3 linked regions of the Homo sapiens genome follow. The protein of the gene in region 1 purifies or fractionates together with the protein of each later gene. This does not show direct contact. Each region holds a gene or a part of one and is shown in the gene's direction. Other genes may lie near its edges. The genes, in order: CAT, HSD17B4 and ACOX1.

Region 1 (10,254 bases):
CCAAATACTGCTGCTAAGATAAGCAGAAAGAAGTGGGCTCGTGACCAGTACTGGATAATCTCTCTCTTAGTGACATCCAAAAGCCCTATTTTCTTCTATCCTGCTTTCTTCTTTATCTGAACAATTTAATGTAGGTATATCAAACAGGAAAACTATCACCTCTTTTTATATTCATAACTTGGATCTATAATATTTGACAAGGAAAAATTTTATGAAACAGTTGACCCATTGGCTTGTAATTGCCAAAAGGGTCAATGTAGTATTACTTAGAATAAGACTAAGTGGTTGTATCTAGGACAGCCAGTCTAGTTGGTAGCCTTGGAGTTATGCCAGCCTGAACTCAAATTTCTACTCTCCTAGATAATTGTGGCCTTGGGCATAGTATTAAAAGTTCTTTGAGCTCCAGTTCTTTTCACTGTGAAGTTGGCATAATATTACCAGCTATACAAGTCCTGGAAAGATTGGATTGCTTGTGGGTCTTTTATCCTAGGGCCCTAAGGTAGCCTGAGATCTACATGGATTCATCAGTCTGGATTATTCTGACCTAAGATTATTCTTTTCTAAACCTAAAGGATTCAGTTAAAATCAGAAAGGTATTGCAGTGTTATTGTACTACTTAATATATTAGCTCTTTGGGCGATCTGTACATGGTGACCTTCATTGTTTTAATCCTGAAGGTGGCTTTACTTCTTGTTCAGTAGTAAGAGTTCAAACCTTTTCACTGATGAGACAGTTGGGATTTCTGTGGTAGAAATAGACCAGCGTTCAGAGTTGATTTTTGCTAAGGAAATCTTTCTGCGGCACTTGGCTTGTTGGGAGGTCTTTGAGAATAAGATCACATGGTCAGTCCATCAAAGAACAGTATGATATGATAACAGGAGCACTTATGAAGTGACACAGCTTCTCTGGGTTTTAATGTCTTGCTTGGAAAGTCAGAATATTAATTTTGCCTGCTCATAGTCAGAGAACTAGTTCCAGGTGGCTGTACTGAAGTTCTTTTCAACTCTATGAGCTATGATTCTATGATTTATTAAAAAAAAAAAAAAAAGGAATAGGACAGGGGTGAAGGGATACTGGCCGAGCACAGTCTCAGTAATTGATTTGAGCTGTCATGAAATGGAATTAAAACATTACTTCATGATAAAAGGCAAGTAGTCCTTTAATTTTATTAATCTTTTGCCTACTTTTAAGTATATTTTGATTTTTCTGATTTGGAAAGTAACATGAGTGTAAAAATTCAAATAATAGAATACATAAAGGGAAAGATAGGACTGATTTTAAATATGAAATGTGTAGATGGGATTCCCTTGACATTTAAAAGTATTGGGATAATCAAGTAGAATTTCTTGTTGATAAATTCATTAGTATCAGATTTGAACAATAGAAGTATTGTTGTAAAGAAAGTTCATTCTTTGGGCAGTGTTACTCATAATCCTTCAATGAATTACTGATGAAATTTTGATAACTTTGACAATAAGTTTCCATTGGAGCTTCTTTCTTTCATTTTGTAGACTGACCAGGGCATCAAAAACCTTTCTGTTGAAGATGCGGCGAGACTTTCCCAGGAAGATCCTGACTATGGCATCCGGGATCTTTTTAACGCCATTGCCACAGGAAAGTACCCCTCCTGGACTTTTTACATCCAGGTCATGACATTTAATCAGGCAGAAACTTTTCCATTTAATCCATTCGATCTCACCAAGGTGAGTCAGTAAACAACTATATTGTTTTCTTTTTTAAGTCTCTTCTTACCTAATTAGAAAAAAAATCTAGTCAAACAATTATAATAATGGGGAAGTCATATACAAAATACAGAGGGTACCACTTCAGAGTGTCCTAAGCTGTGAATGAGTGCTTACCAGCATCTTACTTCCACGTTCCTGTTTGTCATTTCATTGAGTATGTGTATGTGGCTTCATATATTGTTATTAACAGGGAACAGATTATGAAAAGCTGATGTACTTTTTCCTGGGGAAACTGTCAGTATTTACCACTTACTATTGTGAAAGATTTAACTAAGGCACTCATCTTAAATTCTTATGTTTTATTGGATTTAAAAATTATTTTCATTGGCTTGATTGTATTTGAAATCTGGTATTTTTGTGGGTAGCTTTGATTTCCTTCAGTTGATTGCCTGGTAATTGTGAATATGACATCATTTTCAGGTTTGGCCTCACAAGGACTACCCTCTCATCCCAGTTGGTAAACTGGTCTTAAACCGGAATCCAGTTAATTACTTTGCTGAGGTTGAACAGATAGCCTTCGACCCAAGCAACATGCCACCTGGCATTGAGGCCAGTCCTGACAAAATGCTTCAGGTGAGCCTGGTGGATTGAGATGTTCTGAGGCAGGTGTCCATGTGAGCATGCACACACAAAATATGCAGCTTGGCATGATCTTTATGTGAGGAATTAACAAGAACATTACTTAAACTTTAATCTGGGTGCTTGGTTACCTTGTGGGATTCACTGAGGTGAACTATTCTTCAATGAGCATTCCTTGAGTAAACCAAGTATAAACAAAAGTCCATGGTAAGATCCCTACATATGTGAAGACAAGAATACTTACTCTCTTAATTAAAAAAAAAAGACATAATAGAAATACCTTAAGTATTGATAGAGTGAAGCATGGTTTGTTCTGTCTGTAGCTGAAGTATGGTTAATTAATTATAATACCTTGGTAAGCCTAACTTTATTTTCTTGTTCTTTTTTTTTTTTTTTTTTTTTTTTTTGTGACAGAGTCTTGCTCTGTCGCCCAGGCTGGAGTGCAGTGGCATGATCTCGGCTCACTGCAACCTCCGCCTCCCAGGTTCAAGCGATCCTCCTGCCTCAGCCTCTTGATTAGCTACAGGCGCCCGCCACCATGCCCAGCTAATTTTTGTATTTTTAGTAGAGACGGGGTTTCACCCTGTTGGCCAGGCTGGTCTCAAACTCCTGACCTCAAGTGATCTGCCTGCCTCCGCCTCCCAAAGTGCTGGATTATAGGCGTGAGCCACCGTGGCTGGCCTCATTTTCTGTTTCATGGTGATGCTTGAATTTTTCCATTTGTAAAAAGAGATCTAGGGATGATCTTTATGAACTACATGTATGCTGCCAGTGATAAAAGCAGTGGATTAACCATTCACCTTGCTAATGTTAAGCCATCAGTATGTTTTACATCACTTTTTAATATCTCTTTCAAGAGTACCAAGAGTGAAAAATTGTACTTTGGATCAGAATCAGTAAGAAAATAATTGGCTTAATAATTACTGTATAAATCAATCTTTTGTGGTTTTAGACTGTGACCTTGAAACAAAGGTTAAAGATTGTACCCTAAATCAGACCACAGCGACTGAAGGTTACTTCTTATGTAAGTATCTGATTCCAGTTCAGGTTTCAGTCTGCATGGAGGACAAGCTAAGATTCCGTTTTTAAAAAATAACTTTTTTGCTTATGACATTGGGGAACATCTGAGGCTTTTATAGAAAGTAAGTTTTTCATTAGTTTTTAGTCCAATTCAACTGTTACAAATTGAGTACCTGTCTGTTGTGTATGGTGGACTGTCTTGGGTGCCATAATGTAAGGCAGAATGCCATGGTGATCCAGAAAGCAAAATTTTGTCTGATAGGAGGTCAGCCACGAAGTTTCATGAACGAGGTAGCATTTGAGATTGTTTTGAAGAATAGATAGGATTTTGATTTTTAGTAGGTAAAATGCGGCAGGAGAAGGACATGAGTATAGGCACAAAGGTGGGACATGTTAGGTGTGTTGAAACTATAAACAGTCACTCTCTCCTGAATGAGAAGAATAGAGTTTGGGTAGGTTCATTGAGTATATGTCAGAGGGGACCTTAAATGCTTGAGTAGGAGTGAAAAGCTTTCTTCAGTTTTGAGAAGTGTGGTCTGGGATATATTGAGTAGAATCACTCCTCTTGGTGATAAATAGAAAAAGCGACAACTAGGGATTGGGAATAGCAAAAGGAAAGTCAGGCAGTTCTCAGAGGAAAAGCAGAAGTTTGCATTGAAACCAGGGAGTAGAGGAAGCCAAAACAAGGTAATCCTGGGCCCTAAAACTCCCTACCTGGTGGCTGAACTGTGAGAGGATGAGGCTAATGGGATTTGCCAAGGCATGAAATTGTCATGGGCAGAGCAGAGGCTGCATAACCCTGGTTACCCAGGGAGGGAACGGATTGAGGAATACAAGGTTACCTAAACTCTTTTCACAAGAATCCAAGTCACCATGGGTCTCTGGAACCACAGTGGGACCGTGAGGCAGTCAGCAGCACTGAGTCATATAATTTGAAGAACAATGAAGATTTGAATGGAGAACTAGGCCCCCGGGAAAAGGACTGCAAAGCAAATACGTATTCTCTACATTCCTAAGAAAGCAAATGTCTAAGGCAGCTATTCAAACAGTGGGGAAGAGAGTTCTGAAAAAGGATGACAAGTAGAAAGTAATATAATTTCTGTTAGTATTAATTTTAGTTCTGGCAAATATATCTATTTTAAATTCAGTGTACTCTTTATAGGTTGTTTTTTTTTTAAATGAGTTTTAGAAACTGTTCGAAAGAGCTTTCATAAGTTTGTCGAGTTATTGTTTCTAGCCTAGCTTTCCCCCATCCTTCTTAGGTCATTTAGCTATCAGTTCCAATACCATGGAGCCTGTGAGGAGCCATACAGTTGGGGAAGGACTGTTGTACTCATTTAGCCATTTGGTGACCATTAAGGAATGATTTGAGATTTTTTGAGTAGGTGAGTAGGGAATATGTAGATTGTCTTGTTGGACAGGAAGTGGAAAGCCAGTTAGGGGGGCTTTGGGGTTATTCCTGCTGAGAGCTCATGAGTATTGTAGCCTAGGCAGTGGCGGTTGATATATTAATGGGCAGTGTTTACAGGTGCCTTTTAACAAGGTCATGTTATTAAGTTTTATAACTTTATCCAAAGTGGTGAGCCACACCATGGTGAAATGGACAAATAATATAATACAAGTCATAGAGAGACTGTCCTGTCCCCTGAGTACCTGAGGACACAGGTGCAGCCTTTCTTGCTCTCATTCTCTGCATTTTGCCAAGAGTTGGAGAAGTTGGGCCGGTTGCTTGGGTGGGAAAGGCTTTCCCACTCACGCAGGTCCAGCAAGGGAGTTCAGGCACAGGGCCTTGGGGAAGGCCTAGATTCAAGCTGGTGTCAGGGTATGGCCTCACTGTGCCCATTTCCCAACCTTTGTTGGTCTCCACCCATAGGTGGGGTAAGGTTGCCTGATAAACACAGGGTGACACAAAATCAGAATTAGGTGATAGAGGCTACATCCAGGAGCTGCCCATGGCAGGATTGTATCTCCTATCCTGTTGATGGAGTCAAGAGCACAACTTTTTGAGCCAAAGGAGACAACCAGCTTCCAACCTATAGCTGAGTTTTGGTCATGGCCGCATGGCTAGTCATCTAAATATGACCTTAGGCTATTTGAAATGATGATAAGAGGGAGTCATTCAGCCAAAAGCAAAATATTGACAGAACACTGGGACTGGATTAAGTCTGTTGGTATCAGTGATTTGGAACAAAGTTATTGCTTAAGTTGCCCTATTCAATTTGGTTTTTATTTTGCCTCATAGAATTAGGGATATAAAAATACTTTTAAGGTTCAAGGCCAATGATAAATTCAATGGAAGAAAAATTGCTCATAGAAAAGGAGTATGAATAATGAGAATAGTTCAATAATTAGATATTAAGATTAATGCAGAATTTATCATAAAGCTTTTGTTTGAGCATTAACTGAAAGAAATTTCAAGATGCTTGCCATCTTTGCCTTGATTAACATGGAACATAATTTAATCTTAGATTGATTACCTTTGGCATTGTAGGGCTTTCATTTTGAACCACAGATTTTTTGTTATTGTTGTTTATATCTAGAAAGTCTCAGAGCTCAAAGTGTTTCTGAGATAATTCAGAAGGCAGCATGGGAGTGGGCGGTACTTTTTTTTTTTTTTTTTTTTTTTTTCTGATCTTGCTTTGTTGCCCAGGCTGGATTGCAGTGACACGATTGCAGCTCACTGCTGCCTCAATCCCCTGGGCCAAGCAGTCCTCCCACTTCAGCCTGTTGGAGTAGCTGGGACTACAGGCACATGCCACCATGCTCGGCTAATGTTTTAATTTTTTTTTTTGTAGAGACAGGTCTCGCTGTGTTGCCCAGGCTGGTCTCAAACTCCTGGGCCCAAGCGATCCTCTCACCTTGGCCTTCCAGAGTGCTGGGATTATAATAGGCATGGGCCACTGTGCCCAGTTGGAAGTGCTTATTTGAAGAATTTCCCATGCTGTTGGTTTTGTAGAAATGTGTTGCTTTTTGTAAAGAGCAAATGATTGGTTCCTTCCCTGGAGTGGGGGAATGAGGAGGAATAGAATTAATTCAATATTTCAGTTAGTTAACGTTCTAGCACATTTATTTTATAATGCAATACTTCCTTGGGAATAGGAAGTAATACTGTATAAGACAAGACACTAACTTGTTATGCAGAAGGAAAAAAAAAAGATATTATTACCAAAAACAGATGTGAAGATTTATGGTTGGCCAGAGGGCCTGGGAAATTCAGAACTGTTCAGTTAGGGAGAACTCGTTTCATAAGAGTAGAGGCTTCACTCTTAAGTAGCGGGAAAGGCAGAATTTTGTGGTAACCATGTACAGAGTGCTTTGTACTTCAAATTTCAGAATGAAGTTTACAGCCCATTCCTATGTTATATGTTACTGCCCCTAGTCAGTGTCTATTGTATTTATTACTGCAGGGCCGCCTTTTTGCCTATCCTGACACTCACCGCCATCGCCTGGGACCCAATTATCTTCATATACCTGTGAACTGTCCCTACCGTGCTCGAGTGGCCAACTACCAGCGTGACGGCCCGATGTGCATGCAGGACAATCAGGGTAGGCCTAAAGACGTTGGGCTCCCCCTGCGTGGGCAGAGGGCACGTGGAGCAGATGGGCGGGAGGCCAGGCCAGTGGCTCTCAAGCTGGCCCCGCAGGACCTCCTGCTTGGTAAAGGTGCTCCCCAGGTGCTGCTAACTGGGCGCTTTTTTGCCCAGCAGTGAAGATTTAGGCTGCCTGAGGACTCTCCATGCTTTTTATCTATTTTATATATTTTATTGAGCATTTCCACCTCAGATGTTACTTGTATCCAGTAGTTAAAAGCAGGGAGAAAGATCTTTCACACTGGCTAGAGTACAGTAACATCCAGCTTGGGAGTTAGGTTTTGAAGACACTTCACCAAAATGGACAATTCCTTAACTCACTGTGAAATCACCAAGACTTAGACCCTTGGAAGTGCGAAAGCCAAGAGTTGGAGTCTTCTGTTTCTCTTTGCAGTTCTGCTGTGGCCCTGGAGGAGCAGGTCTAGCTAGAATTTGGAGGGGAGCTAGAATTAGCAGGGAAGGCTGGGGAGAAGAGAGTAGGGGAGGCAGAGCAAGTCAAAGGATTCCCCTCCCTTCATTTTTTCCTAAGTGAATAAAGTTAGGTGAATCAACTTACCACTTTTTGTTTTTTGGAACTCATTTATCAAACTTAGGATCTTTTTCTTTTAACTACTTTTTTTTTGGTGTCGTATACAAACAGCCTCTGGTTCTAATTACTTTTTCTAATAAGTCAAGCAGAATGCTTGATTAAAGTTTTTTCCTTTTACTATTCCACAGTTTAATATAGATCTTAGTTATTTTCTTTTCCCATTTAGGACACGTGTTTTAGTAATATAGACTGCATGCATTGATCCCTTTAGAAATTTTACTGATGATTTATATTTATAGCCACAGATGTCTATATTCAAACAAAGTTTATTTTTCTATGATAAAAATAATACAAGTGTCCTAAAGAAAATTTGGAATATATAGGAAAAAGAAGAAAAAAGAAAAATTCCCATATAGTCCCAACACCCAAAGGTCATAGCTATTACATTTTGCTATATTTATTTATCTATTTATTTATTTTTTAGACAGAGTCTCACTCTGTTGCCCAGGCTGGAGTGCAGTGCATGATCTTGGCTCACTGCAGCCTCTGCCTCTGGGTTCAAGAGATTCTCATGCCTCAGCCTCCCGAGTAGCTGGAAGTATAGGAGTGTGCCACCACGCCAGCTAATTTTTGTATTTTTAGTAGAGACAGGGTTTCATTGGCCAGGCTGGTCCTGAACTCTTGACCTCAGGTGACCCACCCACTTTGGCCCCCCAAAGTGCTGAGATTACAGGCATGAGCCACCGCGCCTGGCTTGATTGTAAAAGTAGAGCATTTGGGCTGTGACCCTGAAGCTCAGTGAAAGAGCTTAATTGTTCCTGTGGTCAGTGCTTTAAAGACAACTACCACTTTGAGTAAAGGTCAGGGCTCATTTGGAAGTAGGATTTTAAAAATTAACTAGGCACATTTCAAAGAGCTAGTTCTTAATGAAGAAAACACTGTGATGGCTGGTTTTTGGAGCATTTTGCTTTTCATGTAGATGTGACTGATCTGTTGAATTTGTTGAGTGAATAATTGGGCTCTATAATAGTATGGTGTTCTTCCTTCCCCTACACACACACTTGGTGTCTTGATGAATGTCATACATAGGCACCTCTTGATTATCCACTGTGGATAATCTATTACGGCAGTGAGCTGGCTAAAATTCCAACCCCAGATTGGTTTGCTCAAACCACTTAATATGTTTCTGGGCCACTCCTGTTTAGGCAGTGTGTGCTCGGGTAATGAAAGCTTCTGCTAATGTCAGCCAAAGCATAGTTGAGAAAATAAATATGCTAAAACGAAAAAAAAGCCTTATAATTTATTTCAAAAGTCATAGAAAATATTTTGATTGTATTTGTCACTGTTTCTTATAAGTCCAGATAAGTAAGTGCTGATATACAATTACCACATTTTAAAAAATTCTTTGTTTATTGGTCTGTGGAGGGTATGAAAGTGAAGCTACAATGGAACAAAGTCATCATTGTCAGTAAAGGAGAGATACCCTGAGAATCCTAAAAACACTTTACGGAATAGCAAAGTAGAGTTCTGTAATGGAAATACTGTATATGCTGGGCTGGAGGAGACAAAAAACCCAGAGTTCCAACCCCATATCTACCACTGGCTACCGTGTGACCTTGCAGCAGTCAGGTCCCATCACAGAGCTCCATGCTTGTGTCTGTAGATTCAAGGAGCAGAACCAGAACTTTCAGATTTCCCTCAAGAATTTTGTGATGCAGTGTTTGAATTGAGCCCAAGTCCAAATGACACAATTTTTCAAGTCAATTTTGAAATGTGTCTTTGAGCCTCATCCCTATATGGTGGCCAAATCAAGCCTGTATAAACTTCTACATGTGCTGTACCCCTCAGAAGACTTGATAGATGAGACCCTTTGAAGTGTCAAAAGGGACTTTGAGATTCATTCATAAAGTGCGGCAGCCTGTGCAAGCATTTAGCAGATGGCAGCGTTCCCTAAGAATCTTCATACTACCTGTAGCTAAATGCGGGAAATTAAAAATAATATGTGTGCGTTGTGTTTATATCTGTGTATGTGTACGTGTGTATTTGATTACCACTTGAATTTATTTCTCATCACAGTGATTATTTGCAGACTTACTTGACTTTTCTTATTCCTAAGTGCATCTGGGTGGTTTTGTTTTGAAGGTGGTGCTCCAAATTACTACCCCAACAGCTTTGGTGCTCCGGAACAACAGCCTTCTGCCCTGGAGCACAGCATCCAATATTCTGGAGAAGTGCGGAGATTCAACACTGCCAATGATGATAACGTTACTCAGGTAATGACTTCTCTTTATCTGCTATGGAAGTCACCTGCTAATTCTCCTTGTCAATGCCTGCATAATCCCCCTCCCTGCAAATGCCCCAACTGTCTGATGTATCTTAAATTGAATTCAAGGAAGACTCATCTGTAATAGTAAATTGGGCCCCTTACTGGGTGGAGTTGAAGGGTTATATTACTCTGGTCTTTTGCCTCAAAGCATGCAGACTCCGTCTCAGTTTCTTCAAACTTTATTGAAGGGATATGGGGAGGGGGCATTGGGGAAACAGTTATCTCATGGGAATTTAAGAAATGAGCATGTACAGCTTACGTGGAGACAAATCTAAGAATCTGGGCAGGACAGTCCAGGTTCAAGGACTAGAACTAGAGATCCAAAATAGCTCCAGGAGCCTCGGCCACAAGAGTGTGGGCGTTTCCACTGCAGGGCTCGTCCTTCACGTGGCTTATTCTCCATCTGTCTGCTTCTGCTTGCCAATGCTAATTGATTATTTTTACCACAGCTTCCTGTTTTCTCCT
Region 2 (10,282 bases), on another chromosome or scaffold:
CATAATTTAATAGTAATTAGGCTTCCTGAGTGTAAAACTATTGAAGAAACACTTTATGTGCAAGGTGTGTAAGAAAAATAAAATATACTTTTGGTTAAAAGATTATAAGGAGGCATAAGAATGTGGATTTTTACCTACATTAAAAGGTTAAAAATATTTTGTTTTAAAGGTTTAAGCAAGTTTTAAAACGTTAATTGTAAAGGAAATTCTATGTGTAAACATATTAGCTAAAGTTAAAGGGGTATCATGCAGTTTTTCCGTGGACTGGACGTTAAAATAAAAGCACAGTGGGTTTTTCTTAAAACACTAACTGCTCTTTAACAAAATTATAAAAGGTTAAATAGAGTCTATGGAAATCTTACCTTATGGTCAGACATTAAAATTTGATAATTATGTCTATAGGGTTTTATTAAAATCAAGTTTAACATTAATAACACACTAATATAAAGGTAAAATTTAGCTTATCTGGTATAAAATCATACAGGAAGCATTGTCAAATGTAAAAGGGTGTTTGGGTTTCTTTGGTCTAACAACTAATAAAAATAGGTGCCAAAGGAAATTTCTCAGCAGGGAGGCACTAAGGACTATAAAGTCCACTGCTGGTGTTCCCAAATTTAAAACAAAAGATCAGTTTCTCAGAAATTATACACTTGGTTTATCTTCCACTTTCCTTTCTCTCAAAACTAAATGTCTTTTAGCACAGGTACCACCCCTAGAATTTCCAGTAAATCAGCACCAGCCTGGGGATCACATTCTTGTCAAAGGGTGGAAAGAAGGAAAATTTGTGCCAGCCTGGGAAGGACCCTACCTAGTGCTGCTAACCACTGAGACTGTTGTTCGTACCGCGGAAGGGGGTTGGACACATCACACCCGAGTCAAGTAAGCGCCGTTATCATCAGAATCATGGGCCATTGTTCCTGGATCAAGCCCTACCAAACTAAAGCTAAGAAAAGTGTAGTCTATCTATCTTTTCCTTTCCTTTCTGAATCCAGTGCCTATAGCCATTACTATTCCTACCACTAGCAACTCTAACCCCACTTTTGAGCATTTTTATGGTTTAGGAGTAGAGGTCACTGGAAAGGATCCTATAGGTTTCTTTAAGATGTGGTTTGTTCTCCCTCCTCCACCTCCTACAACTGCCCCTTTCCCAAACCTATGAAATCAAACTATGCCTCGCCTCATGCCAAATGACAAAAGCAAGGTCTCAGTAGTAGAAATAGAAGACCTAAGGCAAACCATAGCCATTGAAACAGAGTAAAAAGATGTAAATCCCTGGTTAAAATGGATTAAATATTCCGTTCGCACTTGAAACAAAAGCGACTGTTACTGTTGTGTGCACAGTAGGCCAGAGGCCCAGGTTGTTCCCTTTCCACTGGGATGGTCCTCAAATCAACTGGACATGGAGTGCATGGTAGCTCTTTTTCAAGATTCTACCGCCTGGAATAACAAATTGTGCCAAGCTCTTTCTCTGCTATTTCCTGAAGTTCAACACGCTGTGGGTCAGCCCCCAAGGGCCATCCAGCCTCCATCTTCCAAAGCCAATTTTACCTCATGTCTCCAATGACAAGGGGAAAAATTTGGCATTCCCTGGAGACTTAACAGGATGCAGGGAAGTCAGGCACTTCCAAGAGCTGACCCAACAGTCTGCCCTTATTCATCCCTGACTGGTTGTATGGTGGTATTAGGGAGGACCTTTACTGGACACTCTGCCAAATAATTAGAGCAGTACTTATGGTCTAATTCAATTGGTTATCTCTTTTACTCTGGCATTTCATCAACTGGAGGAAGGAAAAATAAGACATCGTAAAGTGAAAGAGGCCCCTTATGGGTCTTTCAACTCTCATGTCTATTTAGACGCAATTGGAGTCCCACTGGGAATACCAGATCAATTTAAAGCCCAAAATCAAATAGCTGCAGGATTTCAGCCAGTATTTTGGTAAGTTACAATTAATAAAAATGTAGGTTTGATAAACTACATTTATTGCAACCAACAGCGATTTATTAACTACCCTAGAGATGCTGTTAAAAGAATAGCTGAGCAATTAGGGGCTACTAGCCAGATGGCTTGGGAAAATAGGATAGCCTGAGACATGATATTAGCAGAAAGAGGAGGAGTTTGCATCATGATTAAAACTCAGTGTTGTACCTTCATCCCAAACAATACCGCCCCTAATGGAAGTATAACAAAGGCATTGCAAGGTCTGACTGCTCTGTCCAGTGAGTTAGCCAGCAACTAAGGGTAAATGGGCCCTTTACAGGATGCCTAGAAAAGTGGTTTGGTAAATGGAAAGGAATAATAGCCTCAATTCTTAACTTCCCTTGCAGCCGTAATGGGTGTACTTACTCTTGTTGGGTGCTGTATCATACCATACATCTGTGGGTTGGTGCAGAGGCTCATAGAAATGGCACTTACTAAATCCTCCCTTAACTATCCTCCACCTTATCCAGAGAAGCTTATTCTTTTGGAAAATCAAGCAGAACAACTAAGCCAAGACATGTTAAAGAAGTTTGAAGAGAAAGAGCTGTAAGGAAATGCAAGAGGAGGAGTTGTTAGATATGAGTTCTAAATTTCTTTTAAAAGAATCAGTATGTCAGTGTATTCAATTCTTTGCCTTCTACTTTGAAACTTAACTTCCTCGTAAAGCAACCTTTTCCGATTACCTGCTCCACCCTGTCTCATTCTGATTACCTGCTCATTCTCTACCCTGGCTCATTCCGATGTCCTCTCTGTCATAACCATTTTTCCTGCCAAACCACTCACCCTGTCACTCTCTTTAAATTAGCCAACTGGAATTAGTTTAACCTGTGTGGACTAACCCTAGGCAATAGGGGAATGACACAGCAGCAGGGGCCACATGCATCAGGAATAAGGACCCCTTCCCCTCCCTTGTCCGGGTGTGCGCTCACCATTGCTCCATCTGTGAGAGTGCAACCTTCTATAGAAGTAAACTGCGTTGCTGAGAAGAAAAAAAAATTTTATATTCGAGTGCTATTTCTTCTGTGGCACCAAAACTTTATTTATAACAGAAACCAAGCTGTCAGAGCTCTGGAACCATAGCTGTCTGCTAGGTGTCTCTAGCCATAGTTTTGCTTCCCCTTCACAGATGCAGTTTGTCTAAAATTGAAGCCATAACCCCTCCAAAGCCACTCTTTCTCCACTATTTATTTTGATGAATGGCCCATCGTAATCTAGATTTTCAAATCAAAATATAGGATTATTTCAGTTGCTCTTTTCTCATATCTACATCTAATTAATCAAAAAGACTAGTTCTGAAGCAGGAAATTTTCCTGACCCCTTCATGGGTGGGGGCAGGAACTGGAGCACATAGGATCTAGAACTAGCTGGCCGCTTTGGGTCTGGCAGGGGTGGACTCCATTCACTGGGTCCCACTGCGTTCCACAGGAACGGGGAGCACAGGTGAGTGGGTGCAGGAGCTGGGGCCAGTGCATGCAGGAGCAAAACTCTATGTGGCCCTTGGCAGTGTCTAGAGGGGTACCTAAGGCCCCTGAAGCCCCAGAGGGTGTGTGTTACAGTGCTCTTTTAACTTTGCCATCCACTGATGGCTTAAATGTTAAACAGCTCAGTAGGCCCTCTGTTTTTTGGTGTGAGGCACTTGCTCTCTGCCAGTGAGGGCAGAGGGTCAGTGTGACAGCCTTTAGTGTCACACCTGTGGCACCTGAGCTCTTGTTTGGCATCCAGGAAAAATCAGGTCACAGGAACAAATTGAATAATGGTGAATGCAGAGGATTTTATTGCCGATGAGAGTGGCTGTCAATGGGAAGGGGAGCTGAAAAGGGGATGGAGTGAGAAGGTGATCTTCCCCAGGAGCAACGCCATTAAGCCATACCTCTGAAGTCGAGCTGTTTCTTCTCTCCTCTCCTCTCTGCCATTGGAGCCTGGGGTTTTTATGGGCACAGGATGGGGGGCAGGGGGACCATAGGTGGTTTTGGAAAAGGCAACATTCAAGAGGGAAAACAGGGATGCATGTTCTCACTTTGGGCTGTGTTTTCAGGCTTGAGGTTGGAGCCCTCACTGGGGACCTGCCCTCTTCTGCCCAGAATTTCCCTGCCTTCTATCCCTGTCAGTTCCATTTGCAAATACAGTTTATCTCAACATTTCTTCTTCAACATTTCCTCTGCCTTACTTCTGGTTTCCATAATTTCCCCCAAATCTTTTCTATGTTCTCCTTGCCCACCTCTAATTATTGGGGGAACCTGCCCCCAATATTTCAACATAGGTTCTTTCTATTTTCCATAAGTGTCAGTCAGCTGAGAAATAGAGAAAGAGTACAAAGGGAGGAATTTTACAGCTGGGCTGCCGGGGGTGACATCACATATCAGTAGGACCGTGATGCCCACCTGAGCCTCAAACCAGCAAGTTTTTTATTAAGGGTTGCAAAAGGGAAGGGGGTGTAAGAACAGAGAGTAGGTACAAACATCACATGCTTCAAAGGGCAAAAAGCAGAACAAAGATCATATGCTTCTGAGGGAACAGGACAAAGGGCAAAAGCAGAACTACTAATAAGGGTCCAACAAAGATCACAAGACAAAGGGCAAAAGCAGAGCTACTGATAAGGGTCTATGTTCAGCAGTGCATGTATTATCTTGATAAACATCTTAAACAACAGAAACAGGGTTCGAGAGCAGACAACTGGTCTGACCACAAATTTACCAGGGCCGGGTTTTTCCCCACCGTAGTAAGCCTGAGGGTACTGCAGGAGACCAGGGCATATCTCAGTCCTTATCTCAACCACATAAGACAGAGCAGCCGTTTATAGACCTCCCCCCAGGAATGCATTCCTTTACCAGGGTATTAATATTAATATTCCTTGCTAGGAAAAGAATTTAGTGATATCTTCCCTACTTGCACGTCCGTTTATAGGCTCTCTGCAAGAAGAAAAATATGGCTGTTTTTGCCCAACCCCGCAGGCAGTCAGCCCATATGGTTGACTTCCCTTGTTCCCTAAAAATTGCTGTTATTCTGTTCTTTTTCAAGGTGCACTGATTTCATATTGTTCAAACACACATGTTTTACAATCAATTTGTACAGTTAACACAATTATCACAGTGGTCCTGAGGTGACGTACACCTTCAGCTTACGAAGATAACAGGATTAAGAGATTAAAGTAAAGACAGGCATAAGAAATTATAAAAGTATTATTTGGGAACTGATAAATGTCCGTGAAATCTTCACAATTTATGTTCCTCTGCTGCGGCTCTAGCAGGTCCCTCTGTTTGGGGTCCATGACTTCCCGCAACATCCAATCAATCCTCCATAATGGGCAAAGTGATCTTTCCATAGTGTAAATGTGTTCCCACCACTCTCTGGAGTAATCCTACTTAAAACCGTTTTCAGCACAAAATTCAAACATCTAAACATGATCTTGCTGGCTTTGCTTTTGTGGCTTTACCCTCTTTCTCCCCAAACCTAGCTAGTGTTTGTGCTGCCTGTAATGCCCTTCTTTCTTTGCAGGGGTCGCCACTTTAGGTCCTGGTCCTCCTTCAGAAAGTTTTTCCTCTTTCTCCCCAGCGGGGATAGGGTCTGTTTATTTTGACACCATTAGCTCACTTACACACATTGGTCACAAGTCTAGGCTGCACCGTTATTGAAAGTTTACCATCTGACTCTGAGTAGCTTGAGGATCCTATCAAAACTCAGGAGATGCTCAGTAAATGTTGATTGAACTATGACTGTTCTCAACATACAAACGCAAGATCATTTAGGAACACTTGTCAAAATGTTTTTGCCCCTTGAGATTCTATTTTGGGAGGTAAGCAGTGGGGGTCCAGGACTCTGCATTTTGACAGTCCCCTGATGTTTGCATGTAGAAGTGCAGGGATTATTACACTGACAAATCTTTACCATCCCTAAGGGGGACTTTCCTTCCCAGGGGCTATCTCTGGAAGCCCCTCAAGGATAGGGGCCGCATGCTGTTTCTCTAGGTCAGCAACTAAACCCAGAAAACGTTTATTGAGTGAATGATGAAACGACAGGTGAATAGATGAACGCAAGGTGTCGAGTTAACTATTCTTCTACACAAGTCCTAGCAGCTCCCATTGCTTCCAGCCGCAGAAATGGCCCCTGGAAGGCAAGTCTTCCAGCGAGTGGAGTCACTCTTAACTACATTTCCCAGGATTCCAAGGGAGCCGCGCGCTCTGCGCTCATCTTCCTACCAGAAATCGGCAAGTCACTGACCCTCGTCCCGCCCCCGCCATTCCCCGCCTCCTCCTGTCCCGCAGTCGGCGTCCAGCGGCTCTGCTTGTTCGTGTGTGTGTCGTTGCAGGCCTTATTCATGGGCTCACCGCTGAGGTTCGACGGGCGGGTGGTACTGGTCACCGGCGCGGGGGCAGGTGAGCATGCGAAGGTTGGAGGCCGCGCCCCTTGCTGAGGCGCAGCTGGCTGCTCTTTTCGGGCCGGCATACGCGCGCAGCCGCAGCTGAGGTCACCCCGCTGAGGTGGTGGGGAGGGGAATGGTTATTCTTGAGGCACCGCATCTCTTGAGGAGGAAAGAGCCGGAAACACCTGGTCTCTCAAGCAGGTACAGCCCGCTTCTCCCCAGCACCCCGGTGTGGGCTTCCCAAGGTCCTGCCTGAGAGGAGAGGCCAGGCTGGGCTGCTGATTGCAAAACTGGGTGAAAGTTCTCCCTGACCCTTATCTGTGGGCATCGATTGTTACTCTTCCTGCAATTAACTCTCTTAGATCTTTGCCTAGTCTTTTAAAGGACTGAAAAGCCGCGAGGGGCGGGGGCTGGAATTCGCCCCCTGAAGCGCAGAGATGTCAGCTCCTGAAAAGTCATTCGGTCGTTCAGTGTTTGTTTCCCTCTGTCGTAAGATTTTAAGTTCGTGAGAGGACCTTCTTTAAAGAGGGCGTCTGATAAGAGCCCTTCCCCGTTGGAGTTTGTATGCTTAGCAAGTCACAATCTGTTCTCGAAATCCACTGGAGTCTTGGCAGAGGTTGTAAGCTCAAATGCGCACAGGGGTCAGGCGTATGATGGAGAAAGAAAATGGGAGTAGGATGGGCACATCTGAGGAACTGGAGAGCAGAGAATTCCGAAGTGGACCGGCCAGTGGGAAAGTTGCCTGTATTTCAGGAGCGGCAAAATGGAAAATTGTTATGTGAAATAGCCCCATTTTTTAAAGTACAAAAAATTAAAACAAACCATTCATACCAACATAGATGCTGTGCAGTGAGATTTTACATTAGTTTCTCACCAGTGGGTGACCTCTGTAACCTCCAAGTGCAGGGATCTTGACATTATGCACCTTTGATTCTCCACTGGTAGTACCTTATACCTGGAAAGGCCCTAATGCATGAATTATTTGAGTTATATATTAAACGTTACAAACTGGAATTCTGTCAATTAATTCCTATGTACTTTCATATCTGTATTGATAAAGTGGCTTCTTATGCTGCCTTTCAGAAAATGCTTTCAGTGTTGATGAATAGCCAAGTATTTTATACCCATAGCTGTCTGGTTATCTCTGCATGGGCATGTATTTGGGTGTAGTCATACCTTCTAAATGTTTTTAGGAAAACATTTTGTTTACACTTTGCTTTTATTGTAAATAATGTATTTTACAACGCTTGGTGTTTTAAATCTTTTTTGACAGCTCTTGGATAATTTTCATGCAGGAGGTCCAGGGATTACATTCTAAGACGTTTTTGCCATCGCTAAGGAGACTTTCCTTTTCAGGGGCTATATCTGAAAATCATTCAAGGATAGGGACTGCTTCTTTTGACACCATTAGCATACTTACACATGGTATGCAGTACATTTTACACCAGTACTCAGTACACTTACACAAGCACATACATCTGTATTTAAAACCAGTTCATGATATAGTGTGTAGTACAGGCAATGCATCCTGAAATTTATTTTCTATTCTGTTTTATTTATAAATTGTAATTGTAACCCACAAAATTGATTTTGTGAAACAATGAGTTGTGACTAGACAGTTATGAACTTAGCACCTGCTGTTCATAAACTGGTTAAATTCTCTCTTACCCATTCAGAGTTGATTAAATTTTTTTTTTTTTTCAGAGCTAAAGGTTTTACTCTGTACCCAGGCTGGAGTGCAGTGACCCGATCATGGCTCACTGTAACCTTGAACTCCTGGGCTCAAGTGATCCTTTTGCATCAGCTTCCAGACTAGCTAGGACTGTAGGCATGTGCCACCACGCCCAGCTAATTTTTAAATGTTTTCAAGAGATGGAGTCTCGCTTTGTTGCCCAGGCTGGTCTCAAACTCCTGGCCTCAAGTGATCCTTCTGCTTGGATTAAATTCTAAAATAAGTTATTTGGTGAAATTTCCTAGTTTTGGAAAACTGTATATTTTTGGTTCTTTTTGTTTTTGTTTGAGAGGGAGTTTTGCTCTGTTGCCGAGGCTGGAGTGCAGTGACATGATCTTGGCTGACTGCAACCTCTGCCTTCCGGGTTCAAACAATTCTCCTACCTCAGCCTCCCAAGTAGCTGGGGGTACAGGTGCACACCACCAAGCCCAGCTGATTTTTGTGGTTTGAATAGAGACGGGGTTTCACCCTGTTGGCCAGGCTGGTCTTGAACTCCAGACCTCAAATGATCCGCCCACCTCTGTCTCATAAAGTGTTGGGATTACAGATGTGTGTCACTACTCCTGGCCTTGGGTTGTTTTTGGAAGGGGCTAATAATTTATGTATCTCAGTTTGTTATTTGTATACTTATTGATTAATTTATACTAAATATAAATTGTTAATTAAATTTATTCATTTGTCAATGAAATTTATCAATTAACTTAAAATGTAAAAAATATACACATATTAAAAAATGTAAACAATACAGAAAAACAATCCAGAAGTAAGCCTTCCACCCCTTATTGCTAGCCACATAGTTCTGTCCTCCAGAGGTAACCACTAATTGCCAGTTTCTAATGTGTTTTTCCCGAGATACTCTATGCCTATAAAACTTCTCTCTTGGCTGGGGATGGTGGTGGCTCACGCCTGTAATCCCAGCACTTTGGGAGGCCGAGGTGGGCTGATCACGAGGTCAAGAGATCGAGACCATCCTGGCCAACATGGTGAAACCCCATCTCTACTAAAAATACAAAAATTAGCTGGGCGTGGTGGCGGGCGCCTGTAGTCCCAGCTACTCGCGAGGCTGAGGCAGGACAATCACCTGAACCTGGGAGGTGGAGGTTGCAGTGAGCCGAGATCATGCCACTGCACTCCAGCCTGGGCGACAGAGTGAGACTGGATCTCAAAAAAAAAGAAAAAAAGCAAAACTTTCTCTCTCTCTCTCTCTCTCTCTCTCTATATATATATATATAATTTCTTTTTGGATATATAAATTTACACCTTGTAGCTTTGAGTCAGAATTAAATATTTTCTGTATTTGATGACTGTGTAGTCAGGGTTCACTGTGGGATACAGAAACCACTAGATATTTTAAGCAGCAAAGGATTCAATACAGGCAATTAGGTTTTAGGCAGGTCTTCTTAGAATAACTCCTGAAACAATAGGAAATTGATCCATTAGAGGAGGCAATACCTCTGAGGCTGTCATTGGAGCTGTGCCACAGCCCAAGTAGCACTGGCACTAGGGACCTGAAGTATGGAAGCTGCCATCCAGGGATTAGGGAGCTGAATGAAGAAGTCGCTGCTATAGTCAGTTTCTGAATACCTAGGAACTTTCAAGAAAACTAGCTTCTTAACAACAACAGCCAGAACTCCCAGTAAGGTGGTCTCTGTCTCACTTACACCTTCTAAGTTTTATGCAGATGCATCAGATGGTGGAACCCAATTCACAGCATCCTAGCAGCTAAGTAGAATGGTAGGAAGTGGTAGTAGAATAGGTGGAAAAATACAGTTTTAAGCTTTCCAGCCTCTGCAAGCAGAAGAGAGTGGATAGGTTGAGAATGTCAGTGATAGGATAGGTTGAGAGTATCATTAAAATGTAATTAATTGTTCACCAATTTCTTTAAATGGGGATTGAGTTGAGCGGACCAAAAAAATTATGCTGACATTTCTTCAACTTTCTGATTATTTTGTTTTTGATTAGGATTGGGCCGAGCCTATGCCCTGGCTTTTGCAGAAAGAGGAGCGTTAGTTGTTGGTAAGTTGGTGTGTTTTTCTTTTTAATCTGTAGCTGATAACTGAAATACAATCTTTACAAGCTATCTTTGTCTTTCTATCAAATAATTTGTCAAGGTTGAATTTTATTATTAATTTTTACTTTTGCCAGAAGGTTTTTACCCCGACTAAGGCTGTCTGTCTAAATTACTTTTAAAAGGGAACCAGTTTCACAGAAT
Region 3 (10,254 bases), on another chromosome or scaffold:
CAAATCAAATACAGAAATGGAACATGCATGACACTTAGATTTTCAACTTAATAGGAAACCATCAGATAGTGTGGGAAATTCAGTGTCTTGGTTATCAACCAGTTGTAGCTCATCTACAGGTGTTTTTTGTTAGATTTTGTTTTTCTCTGAGATATGAGAGTTTAAAGGACTGTGCAGGAAATTTTTCCTTGTGCCTATTTTTTTCCCCATCTCTTAACTGAAGTCAATGTAATTTATCTCCTTAGGAACTCACCTTCGAGGCTTGGAAACCACAGCCACGTATGACCCTGAAACCCAGGAGTTCATTCTCAACAGTCCTACTGTGACCTCCATTAAATGGTGGCCTGGTGGGCGTAAGTGAATTTTTCAGCATTTATTGGATGTTTTGAAGGTTTGTCATGAGATTTTGCTTAGAATGTAGAGCTTTTATGATAATGTCGGCCAGACTTGGTGGTGAAATCCTAACACTTTGGGAGGCTGAGGTGGGCAGATCACTTGAGGTCAGGAATTCAAGACCAGCCTGGTTAATATGCTGAAACCCCATCTCTACTAAAAATACAAAAATTAGCCGGGTGTGGTGGCGCACACCTGTAGTCCCAGCTACTTGGGAGGCTGAGGCAGGAGAATCACTTGAACCCGGGAAGGTTGCAATGAGCCAAGATTGCACCATTGCACTCCAGCCTGGGCATCACAGCAAGACTTTGTCTCAAAAACAACCCAACAAACAAATATATGTGTGTGTGGTGTGTGTACATAGAGGGGTGTGTGTGTGTGTATATAGACAGAGAGAGGTGTGTGTGTGTATATATATATATATATATATATATATATATATATATAGAGAGAGAGAGAGAGAGAGAGAGAGAGAGAGAGAGAGAGAGAGAGAGAGAGAGAGAGAGAGGAAAGCCAGGCATAGCGGCACATACCTATAGACCTATAGTCCTGGCTACTCAGGAGGCTGAGGTGGGAGGACCACTTGAGCCCAAGAGTTCAAGCCTGCAGTGAGCTACTATCTGTGATCATGCCACTGCACTCCAGCCTGGGTGACAGAGTGAAACCCTGTCTCTTAAAAAAAAAAAAGAAAAAAATTTAAATAGTTTTAACACAAACTTTTTTTTTTTTTTGAGATGGAGTCTCACTGTGTCACCCAGGTTGGAGTACAGTGGTGTGATCTCCGCTCACTGCAACCTCCACCTTCTGGGTTCAAGCGATTCTCCTGCCTCAGCCTCCTGAGTAGCTGGGACTACAGGAGCGTGCCACCACACCCAACTAATTTTTGTATTTTTAGTAGAGATGGGATTTCATCATGTTGGCCAGGCTGGTCTCAAACTCCTGACCTCTGGTCTGCCCGCCTCGGCCTCCCAAAGTGCTGGAATTACAGGCGCGAGCCACCGTGCCCGGCTGACCCGAAACTTTTATATCTTCTTATTCCATTCTGAGTTATTATCTTGGAATATATATTTCCAATACAGTTAGTGGTTGAAGGATTTTGTTATTCACATTATATATTTTATTTATTTATAATTTATATGTAAGAAGCCACATGTAGCTAGTGATTACTGTTTTGGACAGCACTGCCTTAAGGGATAACAAGGAAGTAGTTTAAATTAATATTCTTATTTTTATCCTAAAATTTTCTCTACGTAAATGTATGAGAAATAAGTAGAAAAGAAAGTAATAACTATTAGCTTAAGGGAATTTCTTTCTGAAAGCTAGGTGTGATGCTGTCAGCAGAAAGGCTTTCTGGACACATACTATTGGTTTAGTCTAGTGTTAGATTTAACATATTCTTTCTTCTTTTTTCTACCCTTTAAAAATGTATGAACGTTTGCCCACCCCTCCCTTGTTCTCTTTGATATTACAGTTGGAAAGACTTCAAATCATGCAATAGTTCTTGCCCAGCTCATCACTAAGGGGAAATGCTATGGATTACATGCCTTTATCGTACCTATTCGTGAAATCGGGACCCATAAGCCTTTGCCAGGTAAGAACTGTTCATCTGATGTTGAGATGAAAATGAAACTGAGCACTTTCTTCTGCAAAAGGTAGAATGCCCAACTGAAGAGGCGGAGCAAAAGCCAGAAATTCCAGAGCATAAACATCTCGTGACTGTCCTTTCATCTGTGGTAGGAATTACCGTTGGTGACATCGGCCCCAAATTTGGTTATGATGAGATAGACAATGGCTACCTCAAAATGGACAACCATCGTATTCCCAGAGAAAACATGCTGATGAAGTATGCCCAGGTATGTTTTGATAGAAAATAAAGCAGAGGCATCAAACAGTGGAGTTGAGTGGCTGTTACTCACAATAGGGTTAGAATGGTCTGTTCTTTTAGAAGGTAATAACAGCAGGGCACACTGGCATATTCCTGTTATCCCAGCACTTTGGGAGGCTGAGTGCGTGGATGACTTGAGCCCAGGAGCTCAAGATCAGTCTGGGCAACATAGTGAGAACCCATCTCTACAAAAAGTAAAAAAATCTAGCTGGGTATGGTGGCACACGTGTGTAGTCCCAGCTACTTGGGAGACTGGGGTGGGAGGATCACTTGAGCCTGGGAGGCCGAGGCTACAGTGAGCTGTGATTATGCCACCGTACTCCAGCCTAGATGACAGTGAGACCTTGTCTCAAAAAAAAAAAGGAGGCTGGGCGCAGTGGCTCACACCTGTAATTCCAGCACTTTTGGGAGGCTGAGGCGGGAAGATCATGAGGTCAAGAGATGGAGACCATCCTGGCCAACATGGTGAAACCCCATCTCTACTAAAAATACCAAAAAATTAGCTGGGCGTGGTGGTGCGCACCTGTAGTCCCAGCTACTCAGGAGGCTGAGGCAGGAGAATAGCTTGAACCCGGGAGGCGGAGGTTGCAGTGAGCAGAGATCATGACACTGCACTCCAGCTTGGCAACAGAGTGAGACTCCGTCTCATAAAAGGAGGGAATAAGGCTGGGCGCGGTGGCTCATGCCTGTAGTCCCAGCACTTTGGGAGGCCAAGGAGGATGGATCATAAGGTCAGGAATTCAAGACCAGCCTGACCAATATGGTGAAAACCTGTCTCTACTAAAAATACAAAGATTAGCCGGGTGTGATGGCACACGCCTGTAATCTCAGCTACTCAGGAGGCTGAGGCAGGAGAATCGCTTGAACCCAGGAGGCAGAGGTTGCAGTAAGTCGAGATCACACCACTGCACTCCAGCCTAGGCAATACAGCGAGACTCTGTCTCAAAAAAAAAAAAAAAAAAAAAGGAGCTAATAATGCATTTTTCCTTCTGATGCCCCTTTTTTTTTTTTTTGAGAGAGAGAGTCTCTGTCACCCATGCTGGAGTGCAGTGGCGTGATCTTGGCTCACTGCAACCTCCGCCTCCTGGGTTCAAGCGATTCTCCTGCCTCAGCCTCCCAAGTAGCTGGGATTACAGGCATGCGCCACCACACCCAGCTAATTGTTTTGTATTTTTAGTAGAGGTGGGGTTTCACCCTGTTGGCCAGGCTGGTCTCAAACTCCTGACCTCAGGGGACCCTCTTGCCTCGGCCTCCCAAAGTGCTAGGATTACAGGCATGAGCCACCGCACCCAGCATTTTTTGGTTTTTTTTTTTTTTTGAGACAGAGTCTTGCTCTGTCACCCAGGCTGGAGTGCAGTGGCGCAATCTCAGCTCACTGAAACCTCCGCCTCCCAGGTTCAAGCGATTCTCCTGTCTCAGCTCCTGAGTAGCTGGGATTACAGGCACGTGCCACCACACGCAGCTAATTTTTGTATTTTTAGTAGAGATGGGGTTTCACCATGTTGGTCAGGCTGGTCTCGAATTCCTGACCTCTTGATCTGTCTGCCTTGGCCTCCCAAAGTGCTGGGATTACAGGCGTGAGCCATCACGCCCACTCTGATGCTTCTTTTACTGCGACAGTGAAATCAGAAACAGTTGTCAGGGTTGAAGGACATATTTTGATTTGCTAAACCAATGATTCTCAAACTTTTGCATGCGTTAGAATCACCTGGAAGGCCAGTTAAAGCCCAGGTTGCTAGGCCCTACCCTGGAGTTTCTGATTCAGTTGGTCAGGGTGGGGACTAAGATGTAGTATTTCATGCAAGTTGCCAGGTGATGCTGATGCTGCTATTCCAGGGACCACACTTTGAGAACCACTGAACTGCCTCTTGGGCTTAAAAGAAGGAAGTATCAGTTCCACGTTCTTCTTCCAGGTGAAGCCTGATGGCACATACGTGAAACCGCTGAGTAACAAGCTGACTTACGGGACCATGGTGTTTGTCAGGTCCTTCCTTGTGGGAGAAGCTGCTCGGGCTCTGTCTAAGGCGTGCACCATTGCCATCCGATACAGCGCTGTGAGGCACCAGTCTGAAATCAAGCCAGGGTAAGGATAGGGTCCTAGATGGGCTCAGTACCAAAGGCCTAGTTTTTACCCCATTCAGATCCCAGAATTCCCAAATGTCAATACAGAAGATGCATTAGCACTGCAAAATTGGCTAGGGTGATAACTGGGCCTGTAATTTCATATCTAGGCTTCCTTTTCTTAAGAGGAAAGACAGAAATAACCACCCTTGCTATAATCAGTGACTGCCAAAAAAGAAAAAAAGAGAATACCCACCTTATTATTTTTAACTTTTTAAGAAAAATAGTAATAATATTACTTGAACTTTATAAGTGAAATGTTCAACACACTAAAGGCAGTTTGAAAGTTCTGATTACTACTAGCAACTGTAAATTGTGCATGGTGAAAGTGACATTAAATTTGTTTCCCTTTTGCATTCATAGCCACAGTTTATTCCTACAACTGCCTTTCACTGATACTCCCTGATACTCTTTTTACTCCTAAGGAATAAAGAAACTGGCCAGGTGTGGTAGCTGACACCTGTAATCCCAGCACTTTGGGAGGCTAAGGCAAGAAGATTACTTGAGCCTAGGAGTTTGAGGCCAACTTGAGCAACATAGTGAGACCCTGTCTCTATTTTCTTTTCTTTTTTTTTTTTTTTTGAGATGGATTCTCACTCTGTTGCCCAGACTGGAGTGCAGTGGCGCGATCTCAGCTTGCTGCAGTCTCTGCCACCCTGGGTTCAAGTGATTCTCCTGTCTCAGCCTCCTGAGTAGCTGGGATTACAGGTGCACGCCACCATGCCCAGCTAATTTTTGTATTTTTAGTAGAGACGGAATTTCGCCATGTTGGCCAGGCTGGTCTATTTTCAAAAAAATTAAAAGTTAATTAAATTTTAAGGCCAGGCGCAGTGGCTCACGCCTGTAATCTCAGCACTTTGGGAGGCCAAAGCGGGTGGATCACTTGAAGTCAGGAGTTCAAGACCAGCCTGGCCAACATGGAGAAACCCCACGTCTACTAAAATACAAAAATTAGCTGGGTGTGGTGGCGGGTGCCTGTAATTCCAGCTACTCGGGAGACTGAGGCAGGAGAATCACTTGAACCCAGGAAGTGGAGGTTGTAGTGAGCCGAAATCACAACACTGCACTCCATCCTGGGTGTTAGAGACTTCATCTCAAAAAATAATAATAATAATTACATTTTTAAAAAGGAATAAAGGAATTGATACAATGAGACCCTTGCTAATTCTTACACTTCAAAATATTTAACACCATCCATTGGGTCTTCTCCAAGATTGTGGTCAAAATACAATGTATTCAGCCATCTGGTGAGTAGAGCTTTTTGGCATTGCCTTCTTATTAGGTTGACTAGCGTTGGTTTTGTATGTTGCTATGAGCTACGGTTTTCTTAGTCATACTGGAAAGACTAGGACAGATATGGACTTTGCAGCCAGAAAATTCTGTCAGCCTACGCAGTACAAGGTAATTACAGCATGGTCTTAGGGAGCCAAATAGCCTAGGCACCGTGGCTCATGCCTGTAATCCCACCACTGTGGGAGGCTGAGGCAAGAGAATCGCTTGAACTTGGGAGGCGGAGCTTGCAGTGAGCCAAGATCGCACCACTGCACTAAAGCCTGGGTGACAGAGGGAGACTCCATCACAAAAAAAAAAAAAAAAAAAAAAAAGCCTCAATTTAAATCTAAGACCTGCCACATACGAGCTGTGTGACCTCAGGCAGATTCTTAACCTCTCAGTTTCCCATTTGTAAAATGGAGATAGTAATAGTAACTACCTCACAGTGCCCTTAAGAGGACTAAATAAGTTAAAATACCAAGTGCTTAGATTAGAACCTGGCATATAGAAAGTTCTGTATAAACATTTACTTACTACTTTTTTTCTTTTTCTATGTCACGTAGTGAACCAGAACCACAGATTTTGGATTTTCAAACCCAGCAGTATAAACTCTTTCCACTCCTGGCCACTGCCTATGCCTTCCAGTTTGTGGGCGCATACATGAAGGAGACCTATCACCGGATTAACGAAGGCATTGGTCAAGGGGACCTGAGTGAACTGCCTGAGGTATGAGTTTGGTCTCATTCACTCATGGGCACCCTTCTGTTTCGTGGTTGCCTGTTGGATGAGGTCCAGAGATAACTAAATGTTGGTATTTCCTGAAAAGAAGTATGTATTCTGAGAACTTCTTCTGGTTGAAAGTAGATCAGATATGAAGATCTGTGGGGTTTGTTGTTCAGTATTTTTAGTGTTATCAGAAATACTGTACCATGTTGATTATTTGTCAATCAAGGAAATGTAAGTGGTGAATGTTTAGCCAAGTAGAACAGCTTAGATGGGCATGGGTAGTGTTCTGTATTCTTCTGGCCAGTCGGACAGCTGTGCTTCTTCAGTTTGCATGTGTGGCAGCTGTGTTTTGACAGTGGCCAAGATGTTAGAGGAGGGGTGTGTTTTCTCATTGGTTCTCGGGCTCTCAGCACCACAGATGTCCTGACAGATCTGTGCTTGTCCTCTCAGCTTCATGCCCTCACCGCTGGACTGAAGGCTTTCACCTCCTGGACTGCAAACACTGGCATTGAAGCATGTCGGATGGCTTGTGGTGGGCATGGCTATTCTCATTGCAGTGGTCTTCCAAATATTTATGTCAATTTCACCCCAAGCTGTACCTTTGAGGGAGAAAACACTGTCATGATGCTCCAGACGGCTAGGTGAGAGTCAAATCCTCGATTCCTCCCATCTGTTCATAAGAATGTTCTAGTCCTTTTCCTAGGTTCTTGTTCCCATGGTTTTTCTTCACCGTATATATATATTTGTTCCTGAAAGGTATACTTTTGCCTTCCATCCTGACTCACGGTTTTTATTTCGTGGTGAGGCTAGAGAGTATGAAGCACCTGTTACATAGCTTGCAGTTGTATCAAGGATAGAGTTACTGGGCTGGGCACAGTGGCTCATGACTGTAATCCCAGCACTTTGGGAAGCTGAGGTGGGCAGATCATGAGGTAAGGAGTTCAAGACCAGCTTGATCAACATGGTGAAACCGTGTCTCTACTAAAAAAATACAAAAAAATTAGCCGGGCATGATGGCACATTGCCTGTAATCCCGGCCTACTTGGGAGGCTGAGGCAGAAGAATCGCTTGAACCTGGGAAGCGGAGGTTGCAGTGAGCCAAGATTGCGCTATTGCACTCCATCCTGGGCAACAAGAGCGAAAACTCCATCAAAAAAAAAAAGGCCAGGTGTGGTGGCTTACTCCTGTAATCCCAGCACTTTGGGACGCCAAGCCGGGTAGATCACTTGAGGTCAGGAGTTAAGAGACCAGCCTGGCCAACATGGTAAAACCCTGTCTCTACTAAAAAAACAAAATATTAAAAATTAGCCAGGAATGGTGGCAGGTGCCTGTAGTCCCAGCTACTTGGGAGGCTGAGGCAGGAGAATCATTCATTTGAACCCAAGAGGAGGAGGTTGCAGTGAGCTGAGATCTGGCCATTGCACTCCATCCAGCCTAGGCAACAAGAATGAAACTCCATCTCAAAAGAAACAAAAGAAAGTAGAGTTACTAAAAGCATGTTTACTGGTGACTTTTAGGTTCCTGATGAAAAGTTATGATCAGGTGCACTCAGGAAAGTTGGTGTGTGGCATGGTGTCCTATTTGAACGACCTGCCCAGTCAGCGCATCCAGCCACAGCAGGTAGCAGTCTGGCCAACCATGGTGGATATCAACAGCCCCGAAAGCCTAACCGAAGCATATAAACTCCGTGCAGCCAGGTGAGCTCTCCCTCAAGAGCTAGAATACGCAGCAGTGGGGCTGGGGCCCTGACAGATGGCAAGAAGGCATGAGTACTGTTGATCATTTCCTCAGACCTCCAATCTATGTCTTAACAGATTAGTAGAAATTGCTGCAAAAAACCTTCAAAAAGAAGTGATTCACAGAAAAAGCAAGGAGGTAGCTTGGAACCTAACTTCTGTTGACCTTGTTCGAGCAAGTGAGGTCAGTGGTAGTTCTCTCTTTTTCCCCTTCCCTGCCCTCAGCATCCCGCATTTTCTGGTACAGAAACCCTAGTCACTGTATATTGAATCTTTTTCCAAGGTTCTCAAACTCTGGTGTTTTCTTTTTAATCTTAGGCACATTGCCACTATGTGGTAGTTAAGCTCTTTTCAGAAAAACTCCTCAAAATTCAAGATAAAGCCATTCAAGCTGTCTTAAGGAGTTTATGTCTGCTGTATTCTCTGTATGGAATCAGTCAGAACGCGGGGGATTTCCTTCAGGTCAGTATTTTCTAAGTATAAGTCTTTTTTGTTGTTGTTTTAAGAAAAATAATTGTTGGCTGGGCACGGTGGCTCATGCCTGTAATCCCAGCACTTTGGGAGCCCAAGGCGGGTACGGTGATCACTTGAGGTCAGGAGTTCAAGACCAGCCTGGCCTGGTGAAACCCTGTCTCTACTAAAAATACAAAAATTAGCCAGGTGCAGTGGCACATGCCTGTAATCCCAGCTACTAGGGAGGCTGAGGCACGAGAATCATTTGAACCCTGGAGGCAGAGGTTGCAGTGAGCCAAGATGAAACCACTGCATTCCAGCCTGGGTGACAGAGCAATACTCTGTCTCAAAAAAAAAAAAAAAGAAAAAGAAAAATAGCCAGGCACAGTGGCTCATGCCTGTAATCCCAACACTTTGGCCAAGGCGGGCAGATCACCTGAGGTCGGGAGTTCGAGACCAGCCTGACCAACATGGAGAAACCCCATCTCTACTAAAAATACAAAATTAGCCAGGTGTGCTGGCGCATGCCTGTAATTCCAGCTATTTGGGAGGCCAAGGGAGGAGAATTGCTTGAACCTGGGAGGCGGAGATTGCGGTGAGCCAAGATCACACCATTGTACTCCAGCCTGGGCAACAAGAGTGAAACTCAGTCTCAAAAAAAAAAAAAGAAAAAAATAATTGTCATCCGCTTTATAGCTGTATATGCATATAATTATGTCTATCTATATACATATATATGTTTTATTTACTTATTTTGGTCTCTTTTAGGGGAGCATCATGACAGAGCCTCAGATTACACAAGTAAACCAGCGTGTAAAGGAGTTACTCACTCTGATTCGCTCAGATGCTGTTGCTTTGGTTGATGCATTTGATTTTCAGGATGTGACACTTGGCTCTGTGCTTGGCCGCTATGATGGGAATGTGTATGAAAACTTGTTTGAGTGGGCTAAGAACTCCCCACTGAACAAAGCAGAGGTAAAAATCCAGTGTCTCTGCACCTTTTTAAAAGTCTTCACTTAAATATTGAAGCAGGAAAGGCCTCTCGAAGGGGATTTATCTGTGAAAGCTCTGAAAGTACCATGGCCACTTCTGACAGTCACTTTATTTGAGCAACAGGTTCAGAAGGGAACTGGGTTGTTCCCACAGTAACCAGGGTCTTAATCAATTTCAATTTTTGATAACGAATTGAACATTTAAAAATATATACAGGCCGGGTGCGTTGGCTCACACCTGTAATCCCAGCACTGTGGGAGGCCGAGTGGGCAGATCACCTGAGGTCAGGAGTTCGAGACTAGCCTGGCTAAAATGGCGAAACCCAATCTCTACTAAAAATACAAAAAAAGCAGCCAGGCAGTAATGGTGCACGGCTGTAGTCCCAGCTACTCGGGAATTCTCCTGCCTCAGCTTGAACCCAGGAGAACCCAGGAGGCGGAGGTTGCAGTGAGCCACGTTCGTGCCATTGCACTCCAGCCTGGGTGACAAGAGCAAAACTCTGTCTCAAAAAAAAAAAAAAAGTATACACACACACACACACACACAAATAGAATAAAATATACAAAAAGAGAATTCCGTAGTGCTCTTTGGTACACCCTTTGTCTAGCAGCAATGACTATCAACTCGTGGCTAGTTGTGTTTCATCTGAACCTTCATCCCCCTCCTCCTGGGGAC

Evidence for each region.
Region 2: the proteins of CAT (region 1) and HSD17B4 purify together in Homo sapiens (affinity purification with mass spectrometry; 2 studies listed by BioGRID and IntAct, with this or other methods). This does not show direct contact.
Region 3: the proteins of CAT (region 1) and ACOX1 purify together in Homo sapiens (affinity purification with mass spectrometry; 2 studies listed by BioGRID and IntAct, with this or other methods). This does not show direct contact.

The regions. Positions count from the first base shown.
Region 1 is NC_000011.10:34,454,500-34,464,753, forward strand, and holds part of CAT (catalase), read left to right. Parts: intron 1-1,511; coding exon 1,512-1,703; intron 1,704-2,165; coding exon 2,166-2,318; intron 2,319-6,751; coding exon 6,752-6,890; intron 6,891-9,605; coding exon 9,606-9,736; intron 9,737-10,254. UniProt on the Homo sapiens protein: Catalyzes the degradation of hydrogen peroxide (H(2)O(2)) generated by peroxisomal oxidases to water and oxygen, thereby protecting cells from the toxic effects of hydrogen peroxide.
Region 2 is NC_000005.10:119,446,283-119,456,564, forward strand, and holds the start of HSD17B4 (peroxisomal multifunctional enzyme type 2), read left to right. Parts: upstream 1-6,214; 5' UTR 6,215-6,293; coding exon 6,294-6,351; exon of another isoform or gene 6,352-6,471; coding exon of another isoform or gene 6,472-6,539; intron 6,540-10,032; coding exon 10,033-10,086; intron 10,087-10,282. UniProt on the Homo sapiens protein: Bifunctional enzyme acting on the peroxisomal fatty acid beta-oxidation pathway.
Region 3 is NC_000017.11:75,947,558-75,957,811, reverse strand, and holds part of ACOX1 (peroxisomal acyl-coenzyme A oxidase 1), read left to right. Parts: intron 1-245; coding exon 246-353; intron 354-1,864; coding exon 1,865-1,984; intron 1,985-2,130; coding exon 2,131-2,246; intron 2,247-4,191; coding exon 4,192-4,361; intron 4,362-6,234; coding exon 6,235-6,397; intron 6,398-6,847; coding exon 6,848-7,038; intron 7,039-7,914; coding exon 7,915-8,094; intron 8,095-8,211; coding exon 8,212-8,317; intron 8,318-8,451; coding exon 8,452-8,595; intron 8,596-9,354; coding exon 9,355-9,561; intron 9,562-10,254. UniProt on the Homo sapiens protein: Involved in the initial and rate-limiting step of peroxisomal beta-oxidation of straight-chain saturated and unsaturated very-long-chain fatty acids.